7 linked regions of the Homo sapiens genome follow. The protein of the gene in region 7 purifies or fractionates together with the protein of the main gene of each other region. This does not show direct contact. Each region holds a gene or a part of one and is shown on either strand. Other genes may lie near its edges.

Region 1 (3,500 bases), on a different chromosome or scaffold from region 7:
CCACTGTCTGTAGCTGCAGGGCCCTCCGGGTCCAGGTGATGCACTCCGCTGGAGCAGTTTGATCCCTGAAAAGAAAGGCTTGGCTTTGCACAATTTATACCATGACATCAATTTTACTTAAGTGCCTTGCCATTATGCCACATGATGAAAAAGGAAATGGGATTTCTTGGCCACATTCTATACACTTGTTTAATAATTGCATTTTCATACACTTGAGACTGGGGCTGATAAACTTACCAAAGGCTTCATAAAAGAAAAACAGCTATGACACCCTCCCCTAAAAAGATGATGTAAAGGCAGATACCTAGATTCTCTGATGAAAGCAGTGTCTCTATTTTAGATTCTTTATCTGTGAGAGGCAAGAACAGCTTACAGGAGTCAGTACAGTGTATAGTCAGGTTGCAGTAAGAGGCCCTCTGAGCACTTCTAGTCCACCAGATGGGCCAATCTTTAGAGAAGAGAGAGAGAGGTGTTTTTTCCTTCCTTGCTCCCAATCCCCATCCAGTCACCCAGTCCAGAGGAAAACCCTCCTCTACACCTCTTGTGGGGCTCTTTCTCTCCACCTCCAGTGATGGGATCCTGGTCATCACTATTTTAATCAAGTGGTCACAAATGTCTCCTGAAAAGGTCTCCCTACCAGAGCCCCCTCTCCTCTAATCCACCCTCTACCCCATGGGTGGGGCAATCTGGGTACACACCCACCTGAACATGCCCCGGCCCTGGCCTGAAAGCTTTCTGTGGCTGCCACAATTCTCATGATAGAACCAGGACTCTTGGCCTGCCATGTAATGCCCTAGAAATCTAGGCCTGGCACACATGTCCAGCTTTGCCTTGGGCCACCTGTGGTCTAAACTAGCAAACAGGGAGCCACACAAGGTTCCCCCCAAATACCCTTCCACTTCTTTTCTCCCTGCCTGGGCAGTAGCTGTTCCCTTTGGCTGGGACCTCCATTATCTCTCACACTTGCCTCTGCCTTCTGCCAGCCCTCCCAAATGTTGAGATCTGGCTGTTTCATCCTCAGGGCCCCATGTGCTGCACACCACAGCATTGATGCACGTGTGCCCATTCTCCCATCAGACTGCAGGTGGGTGGAGGGGTGCCCCTAACTGTATTCCTACTGTAGCACCATCCAAGGTCTCGAATGTTTACTTGGAGCATCCTGTTCATTTATGCATTCACTTCAGGTATTATGCTGGGCAGATGTGGTCCCTGTGGAACTGGTGGGGAAAAAGACAATAAATAACCCCCTAGTCATTTAAAAGATAAACGTAATGCATGCTTCAAAGGGCCAGTGCAGGGTGCTGGGAGAGGGGATATGAGGGGCCTTGGCCTGTTCTGGGGCCCCCTAAAGTCTTCCCTATGAACATGTTTGCTCACTGAACCAACTGGGCAGGTCTCCCATGTACTGATAAACTGACGTCACACTCCATGGTGTTTGGGGCCTTCCAGCACCAGCAGTCAATGCTGTGACCACTGGAGGCCACAGGGATAGGAGTCCCTGTTACTCTGATGCTCAACCTATACTAGGGACATTGTCAGGACATGCCACGGTCCACACTTAACACCTCTCTAATCCCAGGTGCATCTCAAATCATCTGGGATGAGCCACAGAGATGGCTGTGAGGACAGAAAACAGAATTCTGGGCACTCTGGGGCTACTGTGTAGACAGGCCCAACAGAGGTAAGATGGCAGAGGCCCTGGCTCTGGAGTGATGTTAGAAGAGTAAAGGCCTCTGTCATGAGCGCCCTGTCAAGGAGCACCCAGTCTTAACTGCTCACTGAGGGCTAGAGAGACCCAGAAGGGTCTGGGTTTTTCCAAAACAATTAGTTGGATCCCTTCCTTGCTGCAATGAACTCCATTTTAAAACATTCCTTGCAAAAAGGTGCCTGTGCTCACTCTGAGCAGGAAATGATATGTGTATATGTATGTGTGCCTGTGTTTTCAGGCAAGGCTGTCATTGGGTTTCCTAGCAGTCTTTTGCTTTACTACAAATGTGTTTCACAGACCAACAACCTGATGCCTTTGGACTGAGCTTTTAAATCGGAATGTCTCCCCCTTTCAGCAGGGGAGGCCTGTGGTCAGTGATGATTAACAGCAGCTCAGCCCTTTTCCTACTAGAGCACAGACTTCAGCTTTGTTTCCCAGCTGACCTGCTGGGCATGTCTGGGGCTGCCTATGTGGGAACTGGACAGTGGTCTCCTCCAGAAAGGATCCGTTAGCACTCAGAGACCTGGCAGGTCCTAGACACGCTGACTCCTTAAAAGTGGTGCTCCTTGTCTTTCCCTCCTCTGACTCTAGCTGAGTCTTTACATCAACATGCCAGTGACTCCCAGGTCTCTATGCCAGTGCAACACCTGGCCGCTGAGCCTCAGAGCTCTGTTCTGACTGCTGATGGCAAGGGCCCACTTACAAGTCCCATGGGTGCCTTGAACTCCTCTGGGTCTCTCAGCCTCATCAGTGGCAATGTCATGCACCAAACTAGCCAAACAGCAGTGAACCTGGCCCAGACTTCTCTGTCCACCCCACAGCACCCAAGCATTAGCCAAGCTCTGCTGAACCGCCTGCAGAACCTCTCAGGCCTCTTCTCATCACCCTCCCTGCGTTGGTTCAGCCTCTTTACTTCTGACCTATTCTCAACCGCACCAGTCTTCATCCATGGACACCAGAAGCAGCTCTGCCTACTCTGATGATTCCCTGTCAGCCTGAGCTTCTGAGCTAGCCACAAACAGCATACTTCAGCTACTTTTGGTGGCACTGCTTCCTGTCACCCCAGCCCTGGCTCACATGCCTCAGGCCACCCCTGACTTCTTGAGCCTGTCACACTGTGTTAAGGATGTCTCTGAACACGCAGTTCTCCTGCCTGGAATGCCCTTTGTCCTCTTGTCAACTTGCTGAACTGACACTCACAGCCTCCCTCTGCCATGGAGGCTTTGTGGACATGACCACAGCCTGGAATTGCTCACTGCTCCATGTTCCCATAGTATATATATCCCAGCACATGCCTCTCCAACTTGACTGAACTGCAAGCCATTCGATGTGAAGCACTGTAGTCAACTCATCCCAAGAAAGGTCTGAAATATCACAGCTCCTCCAGTGCCACCCTGCTGGCAGAAGAACATCTTCACTTCTCATTCTGAGTCAGGCTCCTGTCCAATAAAGCGGCCTCAAGTCTGTCTCCCCACCAATGGGGTTGTCTTGCAGAGATTCTGTACTTTATCCCTCCCCATGTTCTTCCTGCACTTCTAACTATAGTTCCCCAAGCTGCAGCCACAGCTATGAAAGAATTCTGACTAAGCCATGAAGCCTTATGACATCCAGCAATGTGTGGTGGTTTTCAAAACACCCTTTTGAAAACCAACTCATAGTTGTGCAGTCTCCAGATAAACCCATGAATGTGCCAGGTCCATCCTGCTCTTCAGAGGTTTATGCAGGTGTGGGTAGCTCCAGTCAGGCACCCATGACAAGGGGGAGAGTGACTGTGAGGCCAATGGCAATTAAG
Region 2 (3,500 bases), on a different chromosome or scaffold from region 7:
GTCTCACTGTGTTAGCCAGGATGGTCTCGATCCCCTGACCTCATGATCCGCCCACCTCGGCCTCCCAAAGTGCTGGGATTACAGGCGTGAGCCACTGCGCCCGGCCCAACAGTGTACAATTTTAATGAGGCAGTTGAGACCCAGATTGGGAGGCTGGTAAGGTCATTTTGGAATAATCCAGGTGAGAGATGAAGACTATAGGCTGTGCAGTGTTGGGCAGCCTCAGGTTCTGGCACCATAGTCCTTGGGGAGCTTCTAGGAGCCAGCTTCCTCTCCATGGTATCTTGCCATTTACACAGACACTTTCCTTCCTTCTGTTAAGGTGCTCCCCACTTGCCTGCTTCTCACTTCTCTGGTGCTTTAAACAGGAGTCAGCAAACTTTTTTTTTTTTTGTAAAAGGCCAAATAATAACTATTTTAGGTTTTGTGGGCCATACCGTCTATGTTGCAACTACTCAGCTCTGCTATTGTGCAAAAGCAGCCGTAGCCAGGCACTGTGGCTCACGCCTGTAGTCTTAGGACTTTGTGAGGCCGAGGTAGGTGGATTGCTTTAGCCAAGAAGTTTGAGACCAGCCTAGGCAACATGGTGAAACCCCATCTCTACAAAAATTACAAAAAATTAGCTGGACATGGTGGTGGACGCCTGTGGTCCCAACTACTCAGGAGGCTGAGGTGGGAGGATCTCTTGAGTCCAGGATGTTGAGGCTACAGCGAGCCGTGATCATGCTGCTGCATTCCAGCCTGGGCAAAAGAGCGAGACCTTGTCTCAAAAACAAAACAAAAAGCAGCCATAGACAGTAAGTAAATGAATGAATGCAGCTGTGTTCCAGCAAAACCTGATTTACAAAAACAGGCAGTGGGCTAGTTTGGCCTGTGGGCCATAGCTTGCCAACCCCTGGTTTAGAACATAACAAGAGTCTTTCTATGCTGTGGTGTAGCATATCGGTAAGAGTGTAAATCTGAAGCTACAATACTAGGTTCAAATCCCAGCTTTACTACGTATCAGCTCTTTCTCTGTGGCTTCATTTTCTTATTTGTAAAATGGGGATATTAGTAGTATACATTGTAAGACTGTCATAAGAAATAAGTTCATGTGTGTAATGCACTTAGCACAGTGCCTGACACATGGTAAACAGTAAGCGTTAATGATGATGAAGATAATTTGTTGTCTTTGCCTTTTCATCAGACATGTTTGAAGGAGTCAGATGGCAGTGATACTGAGGATTTTGGCTCTGATCACAGTGAAGACTGCCTTTCAGAAGCAAGCTGGGAACCTGTTGATAAGAAAGAGACTGAGGTATGTTTAGGCACATATGTGGTGGGTACTTACGTGAGCCAGTGAGTCATCATATTTTCCAGAGATGAATGACATGCTGTAGACTGAGCTGTCCCCCAGAGGAGTGTCAGCCTGGTAGGCAAATGGTAGCCAGTTATGAAGATAAGCCTTGTCTCTTTCTGCTGGGGTGCTTTCCTCATTGCAATGTTGCTCTTCCAGTCTGTCAACAAGGACCAGGAATTTTTCTTTGTGCCTTCTATTAGGTGACTCGCTGGGTTCCAGACCATATGGCATCACACTGCTATAACTGTGACTGTGAATTCTGGTTGGCCAAACGAAGACACCATTGCAGGTAAGATGTTTTGTATGATTTAGTATGACAAAAAACAGGGCAGGCCAGGCGCAGTGGCTCACACCTGTAATGCCAACACCTTGGGAGGCCGAGGCAGGCGGATCATGAGGTGAGGAGATTGAGACCATCCTGGCCAACATGGTAAAACCTGTCTCCACTAAAAATACAAAAATTAGCTGGGCGTGGTGGCGCATGCCTGTAATCCCAGCTACTCTGGAGGCTGAGGCAGGAGAATAGCTCGAACCAGGGAGCTGGAGGTTGCAGTGAGCCGAGATTACGCCACTGCACTCCATCCTGGCAACAGAGCAAGACTCTGTCTCAAAAAGGACAAAAAACAAAAACAAAAATAGTGTAATACATATGTATAGAACTAAGTGGAATTAGTTTGGAAGTGGACACCTCTTTATAGAAACTATTTTTGTTTGTCCCCAACTTTTCATTTAGTATCACTCATTCTCAGTATATTGGCATTTCTTAATATTAATTAATTAATTATTTTTTTATTAGCGATGGGCTCTTGCTATGTTGCTCAGGCAAGTCTCAAACTCCTGGCCTCAAGCGATTCTACTGCCTCAGCCTACCAAAGTGCAGGGATTACTGGTGTGAGTCACCCTGCCTGGCCAGTATATTGGCATTTCTGATGAACTCTTCCCTCTTTCTGCTTTGACAGAAATTGTGGGAATGTATTTTGTGCTGGATGCTGCCACCTGAAGCTGCCCATTCCTGATCAGCAACTCTATGACCCAGTTCTCGTCTGTAACTCATGTTACGAACACATTCAAGTCTCTCGTGCCAGGGAACTCATGAGCCAACAGCTGAAGAAACCCATTGCTACAGCTTCCAGTTGAATGCCGGGGAGAAACCTGTCCAATTTTAGCAGGTTTGAAGGGAGGATCTTCTTCAGTTGTAGTTTGGAAGGTTCCTTGGTGTGGCTCATGAAATCACAGAGCTCAGAGATACCATCTTGAGAAATCCTCCTTGGTATCATGAAACTGGAGCAGAGGAATTGCAATTTAGCAGGAGGTCCTCTACTGGTGATACCCTCACCTTGGGGTAATGGTCCTAACCCAGACCCAGGGTCTGGAAGCTTAATGTTGAGTTGGTGACTCCAGCCTCTTTCTCCTGGAGGTCACAAGATGATGATTGCGTAGATGTTGCCTGGTGCAAAGTGCCCCAAACAGCAATAGAAAGGCATATGTATAACCAAACTCCAAGTGATAACCAGACCCATCTCTCCTCCACCTTGACAAAAGCAGATTATAGTATACAAGGTAGGAATTCCTGTCCTATTTGAGATGAACTATATCCTGTACCTCTGTGCTCTGTGTCTGCATGAAGGCTCAGCCTTTAGAGGCACTCCTTCTAGTTGCATTAGTACTGTCTTTCTGTGGAGTTTGGTTTGAAGACTGGCTCAGCAAGTGGAGGTTTCAATGTATTTTTCAGTTGGCTCATCAGCCAGCATTGGTGAATATTCAGTTTAGGGGAACAGTTCTAGGGAGTGAGACATTTTTGGGAGCAGAGGAAAACTCTGCTGATGTTCGGTCCTGGCAAACATTGAGTTATTTTGAGCTGTGAAGGCAGTCGTCTCTGTTACACAGTGGCAGCTCTTGAGTTATGCACTGTGAAGAATGAGAAGGGAAAAGCAAAAATTATCCTTGTGAAATATCTGCTGATTGTGCCCTACTCTTTGCACCTGACTTTTCCTAGTTGTCCTGGTGCTAACACAGGAGCTACACCTTGATCCTCTCCTGGCATGAAAATAAAACAAAGGTTTTCGTTGTTGTTGTTCCATTGCCCATTTCCCCCATGTTGTCTTTCCCTTGGCTGATGCCTCCTCTGGGTCACATTGCTTCTTATCCTGAACACTTGACA
Region 3 (3,500 bases), on a different chromosome or scaffold from region 7:
CAACCAGCTAACTAACCACCTCCCCAGGTGAAAACTAGGAGGGGCAGGGAAGCGGTGGAAAGAAATGGGTTTGTGGTTTTCTGGTTTGTGGTTTTCTCATTTATATGAGTAGTTGTTATGCTTGAATGTGAAGTTCTTACACTTGAGTGTGAAGGTCACCCCTTCACATTGCATAGTGCAATGCAGATTCTCAGGCCCCGCCATGGAAAGTCTGACAGTGTGTCTAGGCTGTAGCCCCAGAATATGCATTTCTTTTCTTTTTCTTAAAGAGGCAGGTTCTCATTCTGTCACCCAGGCATGTGCAGTGGAATGATAATGGCTCACTGCAGCCTCGACCTCCCAGGTTCAAGTGATCCTCCAGCCTCAGCCTCCTTAGTAGCCACAGGCACATGCCACCATGCCTGGCTAATTAAAAAAAAATTTTTTTTCGTAGAGATGGGGTCTCCCAGTGTTGCACAAACTGGTCTCAAACTCCTTGCCTCAAATGATCCTCCTACCTTAGCCTCCCAAAGTGCTGGGATTATAGGGATGAGTCATGACCCCGGCTGTGAATGTGCATTTTTAATAAATATCCCAGGTGATTCTAATGCAGGTGCTCTGTGGGCCACCCTTTTGAAAGTTATGGGAAGAAATTACCTGGAATGTTTTGCTGGGATGACTTCCTTCTCCAGCTGCGTGATACAGATGCCCCTGCTTACGCTCAGCTGCAGGAATCTAGGAAAAGAATAAGTGAAGTTCGAGAAATTGCATATTTTTATTTCTGCTTAATTCAAGCAGAGAGTAGTTAAGCTGAAAGATTTGTTTGGGGCTGTCTTGATGACCAAAGAGGTCAATCCAGTGTTAATAAAGAAGATCAGGCTGGGCGCAGTGGCTCACGCCTGTAATCCCAGCACTTTGGGAGGCCGAGGCAGGTGGATCACGAGGTCAGGAAATAGAGACCATCCTGGCTAACACGGTGAAACCCCCTCTCTACTAAAAATACAAAAAATTAACTGGGTGTGGTGGCAGGCGCCTGTACTCCCAGCTACTTGGGAGGCTGAGGCAGGAGAATGGTGTGAACCCGCGAGGCGGAGCTTGCAGTGAGCCGAGATAGCACCACTGCACTCCAGCCTGGGCGACAGAGCGAGACTCCGTGTCAAAAAAAAAAAAAAAGAAGAAAATCATTAATAGTAAGAAATCAGTGGTTAGGAGCTGTCTCCTTAAGGGGCTCCCTTCCCTAGTGTTAGAAAAACTCTGGACCACATGACCCAGTGGGCTGTGTTTTTAATGAAAAAATGGATTACGGCACATGCCACGTTCTAAGTGTAGGTATTATTTTGGTAACTTTTTGGTGTGTGTGTGGGGGCACTGGTTTGTGATGTAAAATGTGCTTCTTCCCATGCATCACGGTTAAAACACTGGACAGCATCTGCTCTACCCCATAATGACTCTGGGGAGATATTCTGAGTTCCTACGTTTCTGAGAATTTCCCTGACGTGTGAGTGATATAGACCACATGCTCAGCAGAGTATGGGCTGCAGCGGCAAGAGCTCACAAAACTGATTTCCTCCGCAGACTGGCTGCCCTGCAGCCCAGTGTTAATTTATTTAAATAAAGATGGAGTAGGCAGGTGACAGAGATGGATGCCCGTAATAAGATTAAATTAGTGGGAACTGGCAAGAAGGCATGCTCTTTTTTGGAACTGATAGTGGAGAGATGAGGGAATATCACATTAGAAAAATTGGAGGAGGGCCCTAATTGGAAAGAGGAATCCAGATGCAGGAAATCTGGGTTCTGGTGGGAAGGCTGCCGTGATAATCTAATCAGGATATTGCTGATGTGTAGGGGAAGGCCCCTCTGGGAAGATGCCCTATTTCATTAGAAGAGCACCTTGAGAATGCCTCCTGTTAATGGTTGAACTGTAAAAAAGAATCACAAAACAAAACAAAAACATTCTTTGATTTCTTTCTTGCTCTAGAAATCAACTGATGAGCCTTCTGAGAAGGATGCTCTGCAACCAGGCCGGAACCTGGTGGCAGCCGGCTACGCACTGTATGGCAGTGCCACCATGCTGGTCCTTGCCATGGACTGTGGGGTCAACTGCTTCATGCTGGACCCGGTGAGAGACCTCACAGGAGGCTGGGGGCTTGGCTGGTGTCTGTGAGCAAATGAATGATATGTGTGGGGGATTGGCAGGGGTATGTGGAGGTGGGAGGTGATGCCCATGGAGGGACAGAGATGATGATGTGTGGTGGAAAGGGGGCAGGAGACCAAGAGAGAGTGTATGCCTCCCGAGCAGACTATGGAGGTGAGAAATGCCATCTCAGACTGGCACAAGAGGGGGTCTTTGTTCCAATGTGAATTCCTCAGAGCAGCTGTTACTCAAATGACCCAAATGCCAGGTCCAGGCAGGCCATAGGGATGATGAAGTGTGCTGGGGAAGGAAGGCCGGGGGGCAAGGGTGGAACTGGGGTGAACTGAAGAGTTCCAGCAATTACAATTGGGAGGAGGGGGCCCGCCTTGCCAAGGCTTCTATTAATGGTTCAAGAAACACTGGATTGTAAAAAACATAATGTTTCTGCATGTGTGCAACACTATGTTGGCCAACTAAAATGCATTTATGGACCTGATGGGGCTGTAGATATTCTGTTTGCCATAAACTGTATCCATCCATTTCTAGCTTTTCTACTTTAGTCACCAAAAGGCTGTTTTCCTGAGACGAATGGGTGTGCCAACTGAAGCAGTGGACGACATTGCTTCTTCAAAAATAGCTCCCACATTTATTCGTGTACATTTACACAAACCTTCAGTTAACTGGTGCAGTCTTTCTTTCTTTTTTTTTTTTTTTTCTGAGATGTAGTCTTGCCCTGTCTCCCAGGCTGGAGTGCAGTGGCGTGATCTCGGCTCACTGCAAGTTCTGCCTCCTGGGTTCGAGCGATTCTCCTGCCTCAGCTCCTGAGTAGCTGGGACTACAGGCGCCTGCCACCACACTTGTATTTTTAGTAGAGACGGGGTTTCGCCATGTTGGTCAGGCTGGTCGCGAACTCCTAACCTCAGGTGATCTGCCCGCCTCAGCCTCCCAAAGTGCTGGGATTACAGGCATGAGCCACCATGCCTGGCCAACTTTTTTAACTTTTAGAGATGTCCTCCTATGACATTAGTGAACTATGTGTAAAGTGCTTTTTGCTGGCAAACTGAACCCCAGGAACAGACAAGGAACAGGAACCTTCTGTGCGAGATAGGCTGCTGGAGGTGAGGCCGGGTCTGTGTGTGGCAGGAAGGCTAACTCAACACAGGCTGCCTTTGTCCCAGGCTGTCAGGGAAGTGGACTTTCACCTCCTTGGAAGCATGGGCACTTAACAAATAAACAAGGGTAGGGTAATAGCACTAGTTAAAGTCGCCAAATGTGGTGACCTGGGTAGGGGTGGGGTGGGGGAGTTAGTGGCAGAACCAGAGCAAAGTTCCACCTGAGCCCAGGATGGAATTTCGGGCACCACTGATGTTTGCTGACTGTGATTTGC
Region 4 (3,500 bases), on a different chromosome or scaffold from region 7:
GATTCTCCCACCTCAGCTCTCGAGTACTGGGATTATAGGTGTGAGCTGCCATGCCCAGCAACTTTTTCAGTTTGAATAAATCGTAAATTACATTTACCTTGACTTTCAATAGAGAATATATAAGAATGTAAATTTATGGGAAAATGAATCACATTTTAATTTCTGGGGTCTTTGATTTCATAATTTCATTTAAAGTTCATTTTGAAGCTCATTTTCCCATATTTTTATATTCATGTTTAAGTTAAAATGTAGTAAAACATAACTACATGTTCTTGTTTCAAATTGGGAACTCAATTTGGAAGAGATTCCTTTTAGTCTGAGATTTTAAGATGTTTTAGCAGCAATCTTTTTTTTTTTTTCTTTCCTCGCTCTTGTTGCCCAGGCTGGGGTGCAATGAGGCGATCTCAACTCACCGCAACCTACGCCTCCCAGGTTCAAGTGATTCTCCTGCCTCAGCCTCTCGAGTAGCTAGGATTACAGGCATGCGCCACCTCACCCAGCTAATTTTGTATTTTTAGTAGATAGAGGGTTTCTCCATGTTAGTCAGGCTGGTCTTGAACTCCCGACCTCAGGTCATCCACCCGCCTCGGCCTCCCAAAGTGCTAGGATTACAGGCATGAGCCACCGTGCCCAGCCTTAGCAGCAGTCTTGTAAGATGGTAACTTTTTCACAGTAGCAGCTTATGAAACTTATGATGTGAAATAACTAAACAGACCCCTTCATATTAAGCTTTGCAACCTTTTTAAAAGAAATCCATGCATCATAACTTATTTTCAAAACATCAACTTTATGATATCTATCATATATATTTGCCTAGGTTTTTTGTCTTTTGGTTTTTGGGTTTTTTTTTTTTTATACTTTAAGTTTTAGGGTACATGTGCACAATGTATTTGGGTTTTTTTTTGAGACAGAGTCTCACTCTGTCATCCAGGCTGGAGTGCAGTGGCATGATCTCGGCTCACTGTGGCCTCTGTCTCCCAGGTTCAATAAATTCTCCTGCCTCAGCTTCCCAAGTAGCTGCATTACAGGCATGTACCACCATGCCTGGCTAATTTTTGTTTGTTTGCTTTTTGAGATGGAGTTTCGCTCCTGTTGCCCAGGCTGGAGTGCAATGGCGCGATCTCAGCTCACCACAACCTCCACTTCCTGGGTTCAAGCGATTCTCCTGCCTCAGCCTCCCGAGTAGCTGGGATTACAGGCATGCGCCACCATGTCTGGCTCATTTTGTGTTTTTATAGAGACAGGGTTTGTCCATGTTGGTCAGGCTGGTCTCGAACTCCTGACCTCAGGTGATCTGCCCACCTCAGCCTCCCAAAGTGCTAGGATACAGGCATGAGCCACCGTGCCTGGCTAATTTTTGTATTTTTAGTAGAGATGGGATTTCACCATATTGGCCAGGCTCGTCTCGAACTCCTGACCTCAAGTGATTCCCCCTTCTGCCTCCCAAAGTGCTGGGATTACAGGTGTGAGCCACCGCGCCTGGCCATGTTTTTTTTGTTTTTAAACTAGAAGCTCCAAAAGTTTTTAGTGAAGGCTAAGCTGTCATTGAATTATCCTAGAAATAATGTTTTTTAAATCACTTTATGAGCTGGGCGCTGTGGCTTATGCCTGTAATCCCATGGGAGACCAAGATGGGTGGATCACTTAAGGTCAGGATTTTGAGACCAGCCTGGCCAACATAGTGAAACCCCATCTGTACTAAAAATACAAAAAAATATCTGGGCGTGATGGCAGGCGCCTGTAATCCCAGCTACTCGGGAGGCTGAGGCAGGAGAATCTCTTGAACCCAGGAGGCGGAGGTTGCAGTGAGCTGAGATCACCCATTGCACTCCAGCCTGAGCAACAAGAGCGAAATTCTGTCTAAAAAAAAAAAAAAAATCACTTTATAAATATAGCTGTGGGGCTACTTTCATGCATATGGACTCAAAGGAAGCGCTCCCTAAACTGCATATTCATAAAAGTTAAAAGTAGAATGCTGTTCCTAATAAAAGTCTTTTTTTATAGAAGATTAATTTTTTAATTAATTTTAGTGTTGTGCTAAGGACCATGATGTTTTTCATTTCCTTAAAATTATAAGGTATTTTTTCAGTCTTTGAAGTTATTCATTAAAATTGAGAAAAGAACCCGTAAGCAGTATACAGATCAGAGCATCTTAAAATTTGGTAATTTTTTTTTTTTTGAGACCGAGTTTCACTATTGTTGCCCAGGCTGGAGTGCAGTGGCGCGATCTCGGCTCACCGCAACCTCTGCCTCCCGGGTTCAAGTGTTTCTCCTGCTTCAGCCTCCCAAGTAGCTGGGATTACAGGCATGCGCCACCACGCCCGGCTAATTTTGTATTTTTTTTTTTTTTGTAGTAGAGATGGTGTTTCTCCATGTTGGTCAGGCTGGTCTTGAACTCCTGACCTCAGGTGATCTGCCCACCTCAGCCTCCCAAGTGCTGGGATTACAGGCATGAGCCACTGCGCCCAGCCAGTTATTTTTATATGTTAGCCATGTCTTGATTTATGTTAAAGATCTGGGATAAGGCAGACAGTTTCCTAAAGGAACATATTACCTAGATTACATGAGAAGGAAGTGAGGAGCCAGGAAAAGATAGGCTGTTCTTGGGTTGGTAAGGACCAGTGGCCAGGTGGGTGTTGGCAGAGGAAAGACAGGCAAGGTGGGTGTGAAGCTTGGAAATGGATCTGTAGCTACAGGATGTTGGAAACAGAAAACCAGCTCTCACGCCTGATGGAATGTCTTGAGAGCTGGGTACCAGGAAGTGAAAACACTGCCCAATGAAATGAACAAGAGATGAATGAATTGCCTTGTTAGGCACCTTCCACCATTCCCTCTCTGCTACATCCCTGATGGCCCTCTTGGTGTTTGTTAACCATGGTAACTGCCTGTAGAATTGTTTTTAGTTGTTGGCTCTCTGAGTTGTAGCAAAGTAGAATTATGAGTTCATCCAATTCATATACACAGTCAATTAGCCTCATATCTTTTTTTTTTTTTGTCTTGAGGCCGGGTCTCACTCTGTCACCCAGACTGGAGTCCAGTGACATAAACAAGGCTTACTGCAGCCTCAACCTTTGGGCTTACGTGATCCTCCTGCCGCAGCCTCCCAAGTAGCTGGGAGTACAGGCATGTGCTACCACGCCTGAATAATTTTTGAAATTTTTGTAGAGATAGGGTCTCATTGTGTCATCCAGGCTGGTCTTGAACTCTTGGGCTCAAGCAATCCTCTTGCCTCGGCCTCACAATGTGCTGGGATTATAGGTGTGAAGCACCACACCCAGCCTAGCCTCATCTCTTCTATGGCCACAGTGCCAGCCAGCAGTCCATCAAACTTTGCCAGTGGCCACGGGGGTACTGGCAAAGAAGTATAGATGGATCCCTGTAACTTAATCACTGCTACTAGAAAAAAAAAAACTGAGATCAGAAGAGTGGGTCAGTTGTATTACCCTCAGCTAGAAGAAATAGCAGAAGAATAAGTGGATGAAGCATCTTGATATCATGAC
Region 5 (3,500 bases), on a different chromosome or scaffold from region 7:
AGAACATCTGGGTGTTGGGGGTGGCACATCTACCGTCTACTCCATTCCAGCTAGGAATGGGGGGCGAGGCTGCAGGCAGGGGCGGGGCACACAAGCTGAGGGCTGGGGTGGACAGATGACAGCCTCCAACTAGCCAAGGCTCGACAAAACTCAATGGCTTTGGTTGCTACTTTTAGAAAAACAGGTATCAATGTTTGAAATTTTGGGATAAAAACCTATGCAAGAGAAAGAAAAATGTAAACTAGTTCTTTCTATCGTCAAAGGGACTTGAAAAAAAAATAAAGTGAAAGCAAGTTTATTGAGAAAGTAAAGGAATAAAGAAAGGCTACTGCACACGCAGAGCAGCCAAAGGGACTTTTTTTTTTTTTTTTGAGACAGAGTCTCCCTCTGTCACCAGGCTGGAGTGCAGTGGCGTGATCTCAGCTCACTGCAACTTCCACCTCCTGGGTTCAAGTGATTCTCCTCCCTCAGCCTCCTGAGTAGCTGGAACTACAGGTGCCCGCCACCACGCCCTGCTAATTTTTGTACTTTTAGTAGAGATGGGGTTTCATCATGTTGGCCAGGATGGTCTCAATCTCCTGACCTCGTGATCCGCCTGCCTCAGCCTCCCAAAGTGCTGGGATTACAGGCGTGAGCCACCGCGCCCGGCAAGGACTTTTAAGTCTCCAGCAGACACTTCCCCAGGGTTGGGAGAAGTACTGTTAGTGGTTAAGAGCTTGGGCTTTGAGCTCTACCACCAATGTATGGTTCTGATCCTCAGTTACCAAATCTGTAAAATGTGTTGGTAGGATCAAATTTAAAGAATGCCCTGTAATTCCAGCACTTTGGGAGGCCAAGGTGGGTGGATCACCTGAGGTCAAGAGTTCGAGACCAGCCTGGCCAACATGGTGAAACCCCGTCTCTACTAAAAATACAAAAATTAGCAGGGTGTGGTGGCATGTGCCGGTAGTCCCAGCTACTCGGAGGGCTGAGGCAGAATTGCTTGAACCCAGGAGGCACAGGTTGCAGTGAGCTGAGATTGCACCACTGCACTCCAGCCTGGGAGAGAGAGTGAGACTTTGTCTCAAAAAATAAAAATAAAAAATTTAAAGAATGCACATAGAGCATTCAGCATCTTCAACCTGGGTAAATGTCAACTACCATGGGCTTCTAGCCTGAGGAGTGGCTTCATCTCTACCAGGTCTGGCCTCCTGTGCCTACAGCCAGTGGCAGGAAGTCCTAGGTGCAGGAGGTGGTGCTGCTAGTGGGGTGCCAGGCAGAGCAAGGCCGGGCAGGGAAGCCTGCAGGACAGATGTACCTCTTTCAGCTTCTTGGCCCAGGGCTTCTGTGCCTTCCGAAAGCCGTCCTCAGCTTCCTTGGTCTCCTTGAAGCCGCCCATCATCTGCTTGTGAAAGGCTTCCTTCTGCCAGTTCTTGATCTTCTCGAAGTCATCGTTCATCAGTGAGGCCTTCACCTCGAGGTGCAGCTCGCTCACCCTCTCTGCCTCGGACATGAAGGCCATCCAGGCCTTCTCCACGGTCCCGTACTGGGGCCCTGTGCAGGGGAGAGAAGCTGCGGGTCACTCAGCGCCGGCCATGGTGGGGTCTGCTCTGCTCACACCTCGGCTGTTCAATGTGGCCATTTAGACCACAGAGGGTTTCCTTTCAGGGTTTCAGATATTTTTCTCTCAGGGACTCTGTGCCTTTTTCAGTTCCCAAAGCTGAATTTGCTCTGCCCCTCGTGTTAGGAAAATTGGGGGATTACATGCCTTTCCTTTATTTTTATTTTTGGGATGGAGTTTCGCTCTTATTGTCCCGGCTGGAGTGCAGAGACGTGATCTTGGCTCACTGCAAACTCTGTCTCCCAGGTTCAAGAGATTCTCCTGCCTCAGCCTCCCGAGTAGCTGGGATTACAGGTGCCCGCCACCACGCCTGGCTAAATTTTTGTATTTTTAGTAGAGACGGGGTTTCACCATGTTGGCCAGGCTGGCTGATCTCGAACTCCTGACCTCAGGTGATCCATTCGCCTCGGCCTCCCAAAGTGCAGGGATTACAGGCGTGAGCCACCGCGCCCGGCCATGCCTTTCCTTTATTTAAAGCCACTGAACTCTATAAAAACTCAAATTTCCACATCTTAGAAGTCTTAATTTACTTAAAGGTGGCCAGAGAAGGGGGGACCTTCTGAAGTGAGCAGATGCTTCTCCCAGGTGTTGGGCACCCACCCACACCATGCCAACGCTTCTCCTGGCATGGCTCCTATCAGCCCTGCTTGGCCCCTGGCTAGCCCTGCACTGCCTTCCTCTGCAGGACTGTGTTCATTCACTCCCAGAAAGAGCCTGGCTCTGAGCACAAGCTTGAGAACACTGTGGAATGAGGACTGTCCCCTCAGCAGAATGGAAGCCCATCCTGCAGGAGGAAGGAGAGGAGGAAGCAGGAGCCTGCTCTGGACCAGTATGGCAGGAGGGGCTGAGTCGCCTCTCCCTACTCACTGTTCTCAGTCCCCGAGGCTCAGGAAGGAAGCCCTAATCCAGGCTGGCATTTCTATTCAGGGGGTAGGGTGGGGTGGCGTGAGGCTGGAGGGAGGGAGAGCCACAACGGAGCCGGGGCAGAAATCGAGAAGATCCATGGCTGGTCTTCAAGGTGGTCACAGGGACAGTGACCAAGTGCGCTGAGTCATGACAGAGGTGGGCTGAGGGGAGGGCAGGCTGTGAGAACCCAGAGGGGGACACGTGACTCTGGGGCTTGGAGACAACAGAGAACAGCCCCGGAAGTTGGACCTCTCTGTGCCTTCGTGTCTACAAAATGAGCACATTCCTGTCCTGTCCACAACGTTACAGCCAGACCCACAAGGTGAGGGTGGTAAGGGTGCTCTGTAAACCTCAAGCTCTGACTGACAGCTTGATCCTGGGAGAGGGGCTGCAGCAGGTGGAAACGAAATGACGACACTGCCACCGACCAAGGGAGCTGACCTATCCTAGGCCCCTCCTCTGCCACGTGCCTGCTCCACAGCCTGGGCACATACCCTGCCCTAAGGACTGTGCTAAGCCCACACAAACAACCCATGTCAGCATCACGGGAAAGGACAGGCAGCTGGACTAGACCTGGCTTGCTTGGGACCTGGCTCCCCTGATTGGCTGAGGACAGCTGGGGCTGAGGACAGCTGGTCAGCACAGGAAAGCCTGCCCCAAAACACACCTTGAGAAACCCACACTGCTCTGCTTCTGTGCCGGAAAGGCTGTAATCAGTCAAGTTCCCCTTCCCTGCTGGGAAGTGTGTTCTAAGCATGGCCCCTGTCCACACAACAGTGGCACTAATAAAGCTACAGAATCTTCTGAGCTTTTCGGTGGGGACAGAAGGGGGTGAAACCTCTGCCATACAACACCTGTAATTATTCCCTTAAAATGTAAACTCAGAAAGACTGCCAGGTGTTGCCAGCTAGTCTTATCTGACCTGCTACATGGCCAAGTTTAAAAATAAACAGCTCTCAGTGTTAGAAACTAAGGTGCCAAGCGGCAAGGCCTT
Region 6 (3,500 bases), on a different chromosome or scaffold from region 7:
TATTAGTATTATAAGACTATTATTTTGTTTTTGATATGTAGCAACTAAAGATATGAGTACTTTTCAGAATTTAGGGGACTATGGTAATTTGAGATAATTATCTCTGTTTTCTTTCTTAGCCTGTGGACATCTCTACAGCAATGAGTGAACGGGCACTTGCTCAGAAAAGACTCAGTGAGAATGCATTTGATCTTGAAGCCATGAGCATGTTAAATAGAGCTCAGGAAAGGGTATGTAGCAGTTTTTTAAAAAAAATTATTATTTACCATCAGCCAACTCACACCAATGTACCAGTTTTAATGTCTAAATAAGAATTTTGCTAACTAGATGGTTGAGTTGTAACATCCTTTACCTTATTTTCAATGTCTTATTTTAAATGAAAGTGATTCGAGGCCTGATCATTTATTCAATAAATGTTTATTGTTTACTATGTGGCAGGAACTGTTTCTTGAGAGAACAAAATAGAAAAATTTCCCTGTCCTCACAGAGTTTACAATCTGGTGTATAAAAACAACTAAGTGCCTACAACCCTATGAAATGTGTAGGTATTAATAGTTGCCATATTTCAGCCGAGAAAACTGAAGTAAAGGGTGGTTAAGGCCAGGCATGGTCGCTGATGCCTGTAATCCCAGCACTTTGGGAGGCCGAGGTGGGGGCAAGGAGTCAGGAGTTCAAGACCAGCCTGGCCAAGGTGATGAAACCCCATCTCTACTAAAAATACAAAAATTAGCTGGGTTTGGTGTTGCATGCCTGTAATGCCAGCTACTCAGGAGGCTGAGGCAGGAGAAATGCTTGAACCTGGGAGGCAGAGGTTGCAGTGAGCCAGGATCGCGCCACTGTACTCCAGCCTGGGCAACAGAGTGAGACTGTCTAAAAAAAACAAAAGAGTGATTAAGTGATATCCATAGTCACACAACTAATTAGTGGGGGAACTGGGATTCAAACCCAAGCAATCTGAATCTGGAGTCTGTGCTTTTAACAATGGACAGCCTCTCCATTTCATTTCTACTGTTTTATGGTAAATCAGTAAGTACATGTTCAGACAGGAAATACATTGCTGACAGTGCAAGGTGTTTAGTAAATCTAATTTGTGTGAATGACAGCTGATCTTTATCACAACAAATGTTGGTGACTGAAAAAAAGTATACAAGCTTCTTTAAAAAGTTGTTTTACGGCCGGGTGCAGTGGCTCACGCCTGTTATCCCAGCACTTTGAAAGGCCGAGGCGGGCGGATCAGTTGAGGTCAGGAGTTCAAGACCAGCCTGACTAACATGGAGAAACCCTGTCTCGACTAAAAATACAAAATTAGCCGGGCGCGGTGGCGCATGTTTGTAATCAATCCCAGCTACTCTGGAGGCTGAGGCAGGAGAATCGCTTGAACTCGGGAGGAGGAGGTTGCAGTGAGCAGACATCGCACCATTGCACTCCAGCCTGGGCAACAAGAGAGAAACTCCATCTCAAAAAAAAATAGTCGTTTATGTATTCAAGTGGACAGTTTCCTACATTTAAACTCTTTAAACCTGTGTCATGAATTTAGTCTGTATAAATGTCTCAAAGGAAGTAATTAAGAATCCAGGCTGTCATGACATGTATTACAATACATTTGTATGAGATAGGAAGGGAGGGTGGGGACCCATTGTCATATGAGCTCTTTTTTGCATTTTTAGTGTATCTGTGTGATAGTTTGAAGAATATTAACAGCTGTATTTTTTAGTAGCTGTGCTTTTAGATACATTTCAAAATCTTATTAATGGGATTCACTAAATGTTGTCAAACTGCTTCTTTAGAAAGTTTAGGCAAACATTTAATGTTAAATATGTTTTAAAAGTTAAATATTTAAGTCTGCTTTTCAGCCATTTTTAGTGAATTATTACCAGTGATGTTTTAATCAGGTAATTTTACTTAGTTAACTGAGACTACTTCTTTTCTTCAGATTGATGCCTGGGCTCAGCTGAACTCTATTCCTGGCCAGTTCACAGGAAGTACAGGAGTACAGGTTTTGACACAAGAACAGTTGGCCAATACTGGTGCCCAAGCCTGGATTAAAAAGGTACACAGTATATGCACATATGAAAGTGTCGAACAAAAAGTTTAAATTTTTTGGAAACTGTTTATTAAAACTGCATGAAAAGACCAGTGACTCTAACCAAAGTTCCAAGTAAATTTGCTATGTGTATATGCTCCAGGGCGGACACTGAAGACGGACTGGATTCATGAGAAAATGGCAAATGTATAAATGTGGCTCAAGAGCCACTAACTTATAAGGTTATTTTAAAAATTGTTACTGCTGCTTTTGAAGGGGTGATTTAACTTTATTTTGAACGCTAATAGTGTATCAGGTGCTGTTCAGAATATTCCACAGTTCCTGCTGGACTACTAACCTAATCATTTCAAAGCAGTGGTTCTCAAATTTTTCTTCATCATGGGATACTTTATTACAGGTTTATTTTTAGTGGATCACTGCCCCCAAGAGCCCTCTACCACCTTAATTTTCCATTCCTCTATTCCTTTGCCCTCGCACCCCACCCGCTTCATTAGTGCCTGTGCCTTCTTGTAAGATCTCTTGGCCCCCGTTCCTCACTCCTCTTGTGACCTGTAGCCCCAGGACCTTTTGGTTGTCAGCTGCTGGTTACAGCAAGTGGTTGGGAGGCCCTAGTATTAGCTCTGCATGTGGTGATCTTGCCATGGGACTGGAAGCCTGAGGGAGGATGGCTGGAGTGGGGTGGGCTGTGGTGAAGGGGATGGGATGGAGATTAATCTGTGGACCACCATTTAGGCCCTAGTGGCCTCTGGTGATCCACAGGCTCAATTTGAGAACCACTAATTTCATGACAAAACAGATATGTAAGACCTAAAATCAAGGGAGAGAATGGACGCCTCGTGCTACGAAGATGTAGGTGCATCTGGTTTCAGATTCTGCAGTGAGACCTGTGAACTCCACCTACGGCTGCCTCATCATTGGGGGAGTCTTAGGTGGCTAAGAAGGGCATTCTGAAGAAACGCGTTGTGGTGAAGGGACAAAGCTTGGTTGGATGGGTGATGGGAAATTTGTTACAGGAGTACTGGCAGCATAGCAGTGCTGAAACTGGGAGGCCGCGTGGTCTAATGGATTGGGAAGGTTTCTTTATCCTGTTGTACTCCTGACTCCTTGTGTAATCATGGGCAAGTAACTCTTTGGAATTTCAAAGTCTCTGAGGTGTCTAGTGGTAATCAGTAACGTGATGGTTACCTATAGAGAGTTGCTATGAGTGCCAGTGAATGAGCTGAATTTCTGAAAAATGAGACATTGGTTGCTTTGTGTATTTTAATCTTGTAACATTTATTTCAATTTTGATAGCTTTATCTTTGTTGATCTTACTAACAAATTAATATGAAACATCATGTATACTCATTATGCCTGCCTTTTTTTGGGAAGTAGTTGCACTGATGTGTATAGTGAGTACACAGTTAGATTCATTAAGAAATTACAATTTCTGCAGTTTGCTGAGGGTTGGTGTTAG
Region 7 (3,500 bases):
GCAGCACACGCTCACCCCTGACCACAGCTCTGTGGAGTCACCACCATCAGCACCCTCAGGTGTGGCCTGTGCTGTCCAAGGGCTTCTGGGCTATCTCCGTGAGGACAGGGTCCGCTGAGACAGGGGAAACATGCCAGGACCTAGCCTTACACACACACACGCGCGCACATGCACACGCACTACACATTTACACCACAAAGCCAGGACACACATGTACATGTTTATATCTAGAAAACGCCAAGTCAAGTAATCAGTACGTGAAGCGGGCCGAGTACCCGATGGCCTGGCCCGGGGTGAAGGCTGTTTAGTGACCATGGAAGTGTGTGAGATTTCACGCACACGCATTCATGTCAACAAGGACATCAGGAGAAGTTAACATTATACTGAAGTCTTAAGTTAAAACATTTCTGAAGTGTATGGAAAGGTTTCACTAGCTGTTACTTTTCTAAAGTCCCTTGCCCTGTGTTACTTTACCCAGACGCCTCTGCTCTTTATCGTGGATCAAAGTCCCTGGGGCTTTTGTGTGTCCCCGTCAGGCGGCGTCGTGGCCTCAGCAAGTGCCTTGGTGGGCGAGTGTGACGTTCCCCCAGCTGGTCGCGGAGCTGACAGTGTGGGTGGTTGGTGCCATCGCACTCAGCAGACAAGGTGAGTGACCCCAGCCCAGCCCTCCTTGTCCCGGTGCCATCCGGGAGGTGCTGGGAGACCTGTCCTTTCCCTCTGCCCCGGGGCTGCACCTGCACAGCCAGCCCTTGCTGTGGGGAGAATGGAGGCGCCGCTCCTCTGGTGGCCTCCCTGGGCCCCGTCACTGCCCAGTGTGGGGAACCCGGTGCCCGGCATGCGCCGGGGCTCGCTCAACACCCTACAACCGTGCTCACCTGACAGCTCCAAGTTTGGAGATGAGCAGGGAGAGAAGCTCAAGAAAGGATGAAATATCGCCTCAATTGTTTTAAAAAGGGGAGGCTCGCTATCTAAGAATCATGTTTCTGTAAAGAAAAAGTGCTCTTTCCACCCCGGTAGGGAGGTGCTGAGGTGCTGCAGTGTCTGCACTGAGTGCACACACTGTCGCACTTGCAACTGACCAGTGGGTCTTCACAGGTGCGGAGAGGCCAGCTTCTCGGTCTTCACCTCCAGGAGGGCCGGGCTTTTCCTCTCCCTGGTCACGTGGAGCTGGCCAGAGCTCTTCACAAGCAACACCAAGAACCTCTACCAGGGTCCTTTCTGCCACCCATTAGGTGGCATCTCTTTATCCCAAGTAGGATTTGAGGGGACACACTAAAGCACTTTGCTTTTAAAAATTTATCTGGCACTAAAATAATTTAATGCACCACGCCAGCAAATATTTAACCCTGAAATTACTGATACCAACCAATCCCTTTATGGACATATAATTCCACAACACAGGCATAGGCTGAGCCCACTCCAGCTGTGAAGAATGGGCTCCAGTAGGAACGTGGGCTGTGCCTGGGGCGACAGAAGTCCCGCCCAAGATGTGGAGTGGCCCCTACAGGACCCCAGCTAGCTAGGGTGCGGCATGAGGGGTGTGGGTGGGAACACCCTGCACAGCTATGGCAGGAACACCCGCCGAGGCCTGGTGACAGGGACAGAGGGCACTGAGGCACAGGGTCCAGACAGCACCTGCCTTTATGACGAAGCACTTCAGAGGACACTGTGTGATCCACACACCCGCTTTGAGAGAACACCAATCCTCTGGGGACTGCATGGCCACGGAGACACTTCAGTTGGGCATCAGATACTAACCCCTAACTGAAGTCACATCAGCTTCTTCTAAGGGGCTATGAAAGAGCTGGTCACTAACAGAGCACGTGGCCCCTGGAATCACCCTCAACCCTTGACAAAGATGTATTTTAGGCTATTTGTAAATAATCGTTTAAATACAGTACTTTCCAAGGAACGTGCAAACACAAAATAGCTTGCCAAAGATGAATGAACCTATTACAATTTGAGCTGCAGATTTTAAAATAATTATTTCTAGAAATAGTTTTCTATGTCATTATTGTTAAGTCTCCTGGAAATCCATCCCTGTTAGAGAAGTGATCCCTGATGGAGCCACTTCCCGGTGTGTGCTGGCTCCCGAGTCTGTCTAGAGGAAAGAGCAGGGCCGCTGGGAGTGTCACCTCCCTTTCTGGCTGAGCCTTGGGCTTCTGGGCACTGAGTCTTCTCTGACCTGAGGCCAAGATGAGCTGGTTGCAGGCTGTGGGTTTTTCCCTCTCTAAAAAACTCTCCTAAGACAATTTATGCTGTGAATCAGGGGTACTTCTCGTGCCACAGTCCTACGCCCTCAAAGATGAATCCTATTGCTAACCGCTGCGTCTGTGCTCCTAACTCCTGCTCCCAGAGAGCCCTGGGCTGGTCAGGACTCAGCAGGGCATGTCAGTGGGAGGAGGGGTGCAGGTGCAGGTGGGCCTCACCTCCACCCAGAAAGCCGGCGCTTACCTGGTCCCTCAAAGGGCAAGAGTTTGGATGGAACAGGGTCCTGGGCGCTCAGCGGGATCAGGTAGAGGTCCTTGACGTGCCTGTTGTTATTAGCTACAACACCAAAGCGGCCACGGCTGCTGAAATAGGAGTAGAGAGAGATATAGGCGACCTCCTCTTCCTCTGTGGCGGGGTGGAAGCGGATCAGACAGAGCTCCTGCAATGGAAGAGTGGGAAGCACTCATAAAGAAAATGTGGCTCAAGCATCACACGCCCAATTCACATCCTGCTTTCAACAGGAAACCTTGTCAGATCTCTCCGACTCACAGCCACGATCTCACAGAGCTGCTGTCTCAGTGAGGCAATTCACGTGACATGTGAGCCCAGCAGTGTCTGGAGCCGAGCCGGCTCTTCCTACATGCACGACGGCCCCGGTCACGAGGAACCAGCTGCATGATCTGCAATGGCTGTCTGTGCCCCTCCCTAGAGGGGGTTAAACTAGACGACAGGGTCTAGCCCTTTCGTGAACCTGACGAAGACTACAGAGATTCCCCAGAGAAAACCACAGACAGACACGCACAGCTGTAGCTAAATCTCAGGGGGTCCCAGAAAACCAGAACCGTTCAAGAGCCCAGGTTGAGTGCCCTGAGCCTGATCACCCCTGCAAAAGACACCTTCTGCTCCTTCAATCATAAAAAAACAAGAAAATAAAACGTATCTATTTCTTCCTAAAATTTAACCGCACATACATTATAATAAATCAGAAACAAACTTCTACCGCGGCACACTCAGACACCTTCACACAGTCATACAACTATGTAAACTTTTTTTTTTTTTGAGACAGTCTTGCTATGTCTCCCAGGCTGGAGTGCAGTGGTGCGATCTCGGCTCACTGCAAAACTTAATTTTTAACATTCACCTGGAAATATCTAGTAAGCTACAGGCTAACATTTTAAGTGTTAACCCATCCAAACGAGAGGTTAAAAAAAGATGTGTTTAAATCAACACAATTTTCCATGGTTGCAGAATTTATACTATAAGCAGGTACCTTAGACACAGAAGACTTG

Evidence for each region.
Region 1: the proteins of DIDO1 (region 7) and MACROH2A1 fractionate together in Homo sapiens (co-fractionation; one large-scale study listed by BioGRID). This does not show direct contact.
Region 2: the proteins of DIDO1 (region 7) and MTMR4 purify together in Homo sapiens (affinity purification with mass spectrometry; one large-scale study listed by BioGRID and IntAct). This does not show direct contact.
Region 3: the proteins of DIDO1 (region 7) and FBP1 purify together in Homo sapiens (affinity purification with mass spectrometry; one large-scale study listed by BioGRID and IntAct). This does not show direct contact.
Region 4: the proteins of DIDO1 (region 7) and KCMF1 purify together in Homo sapiens (co-immunoprecipitation; one large-scale study listed by IntAct). This does not show direct contact.
Region 5: the proteins of DIDO1 (region 7) and PACSIN2 purify together in Homo sapiens (affinity purification with mass spectrometry; one large-scale study listed by BioGRID and IntAct). This does not show direct contact.
Region 6: the proteins of DIDO1 (region 7) and SON fractionate together in Homo sapiens (co-fractionation; one large-scale study listed by BioGRID). This does not show direct contact.

Annotation. Positions count from the first base shown.
Region 1 is NC_000005.10:135,389,232-135,392,731, forward strand, and holds part of MACROH2A1 (core histone macro-H2A.1), read right to left. Parts: intron 1-3,500. UniProt on the Homo sapiens protein: Variant histone H2A which replaces conventional H2A in a subset of nucleosomes where it represses transcription. Nucleosomes wrap and compact DNA into chromatin, limiting DNA accessibility to the cellular machineries which require DNA as a template.
Region 2 is NC_000017.11:58,490,639-58,494,138, reverse strand, and holds part of MTMR4 (phosphatidylinositol-3,5-bisphosphate 3-phosphatase MTMR4), read left to right. Parts: intron 1-1,186; coding exon 1,187-1,297; intron 1,298-1,539; coding exon 1,540-1,628; intron 1,629-2,298; coding exon 2,299-2,476; 3' UTR 2,477-3,500. UniProt on the Homo sapiens protein: Lipid phosphatase that specifically dephosphorylates the D-3 position of phosphatidylinositol 3-phosphate and phosphatidylinositol 3,5-bisphosphate, generating phosphatidylinositol and phosphatidylinositol 5-phosphate.
Region 3 is NC_000009.12:94,608,519-94,612,018, reverse strand, and holds part of FBP1 (fructose-1,6-bisphosphatase 1), read left to right. Parts: intron 1-1,957; coding exon 1,958-2,098; intron 2,099-3,500. UniProt on the Homo sapiens protein: Catalyzes the hydrolysis of fructose 1,6-bisphosphate to fructose 6-phosphate in the presence of divalent cations, acting as a rate-limiting enzyme in gluconeogenesis. Plays a role in regulating glucose sensing and insulin secretion of pancreatic beta-cells.
Region 4 is NC_000002.12:84,977,661-84,981,160, forward strand, and holds part of KCMF1 (E3 ubiquitin-protein ligase KCMF1), read left to right. Parts: intron 1-3,500. UniProt on the Homo sapiens protein: E3 ubiquitin-protein ligase which accepts ubiquitin from an E2 ubiquitin-conjugating enzyme and then transfers it to targeted substrates, promoting their degradation by the proteasome.
Region 5 is NC_000022.11:42,889,650-42,893,149, forward strand, and holds part of PACSIN2 (protein kinase C and casein kinase substrate in neurons protein 2), read right to left. Parts: intron 1,534-3,500; coding exon 1,298-1,533; intron 1-1,297.
Region 6 is NC_000021.9:33,567,038-33,570,537, forward strand, and holds part of SON (protein SON), read left to right. Parts: intron 1-119; coding exon 120-230; intron 231-1,933; coding exon 1,934-2,050; intron 2,051-3,500. UniProt on the Homo sapiens protein: RNA-binding protein that acts as a mRNA splicing cofactor by promoting efficient splicing of transcripts that possess weak splice sites.
Region 7 is NC_000020.11:62,888,506-62,892,005, forward strand, and holds part of DIDO1 (death-inducer obliterator 1), read right to left. Parts: coding exon 3,482-3,500; intron 2,651-3,481; coding exon 2,455-2,650; coding exon of another isoform or gene 2,426-2,454; exon of another isoform or gene 1-2,425. UniProt on the Homo sapiens protein: Putative transcription factor, weakly pro-apoptotic when overexpressed. Tumor suppressor. Required for early embryonic stem cell development.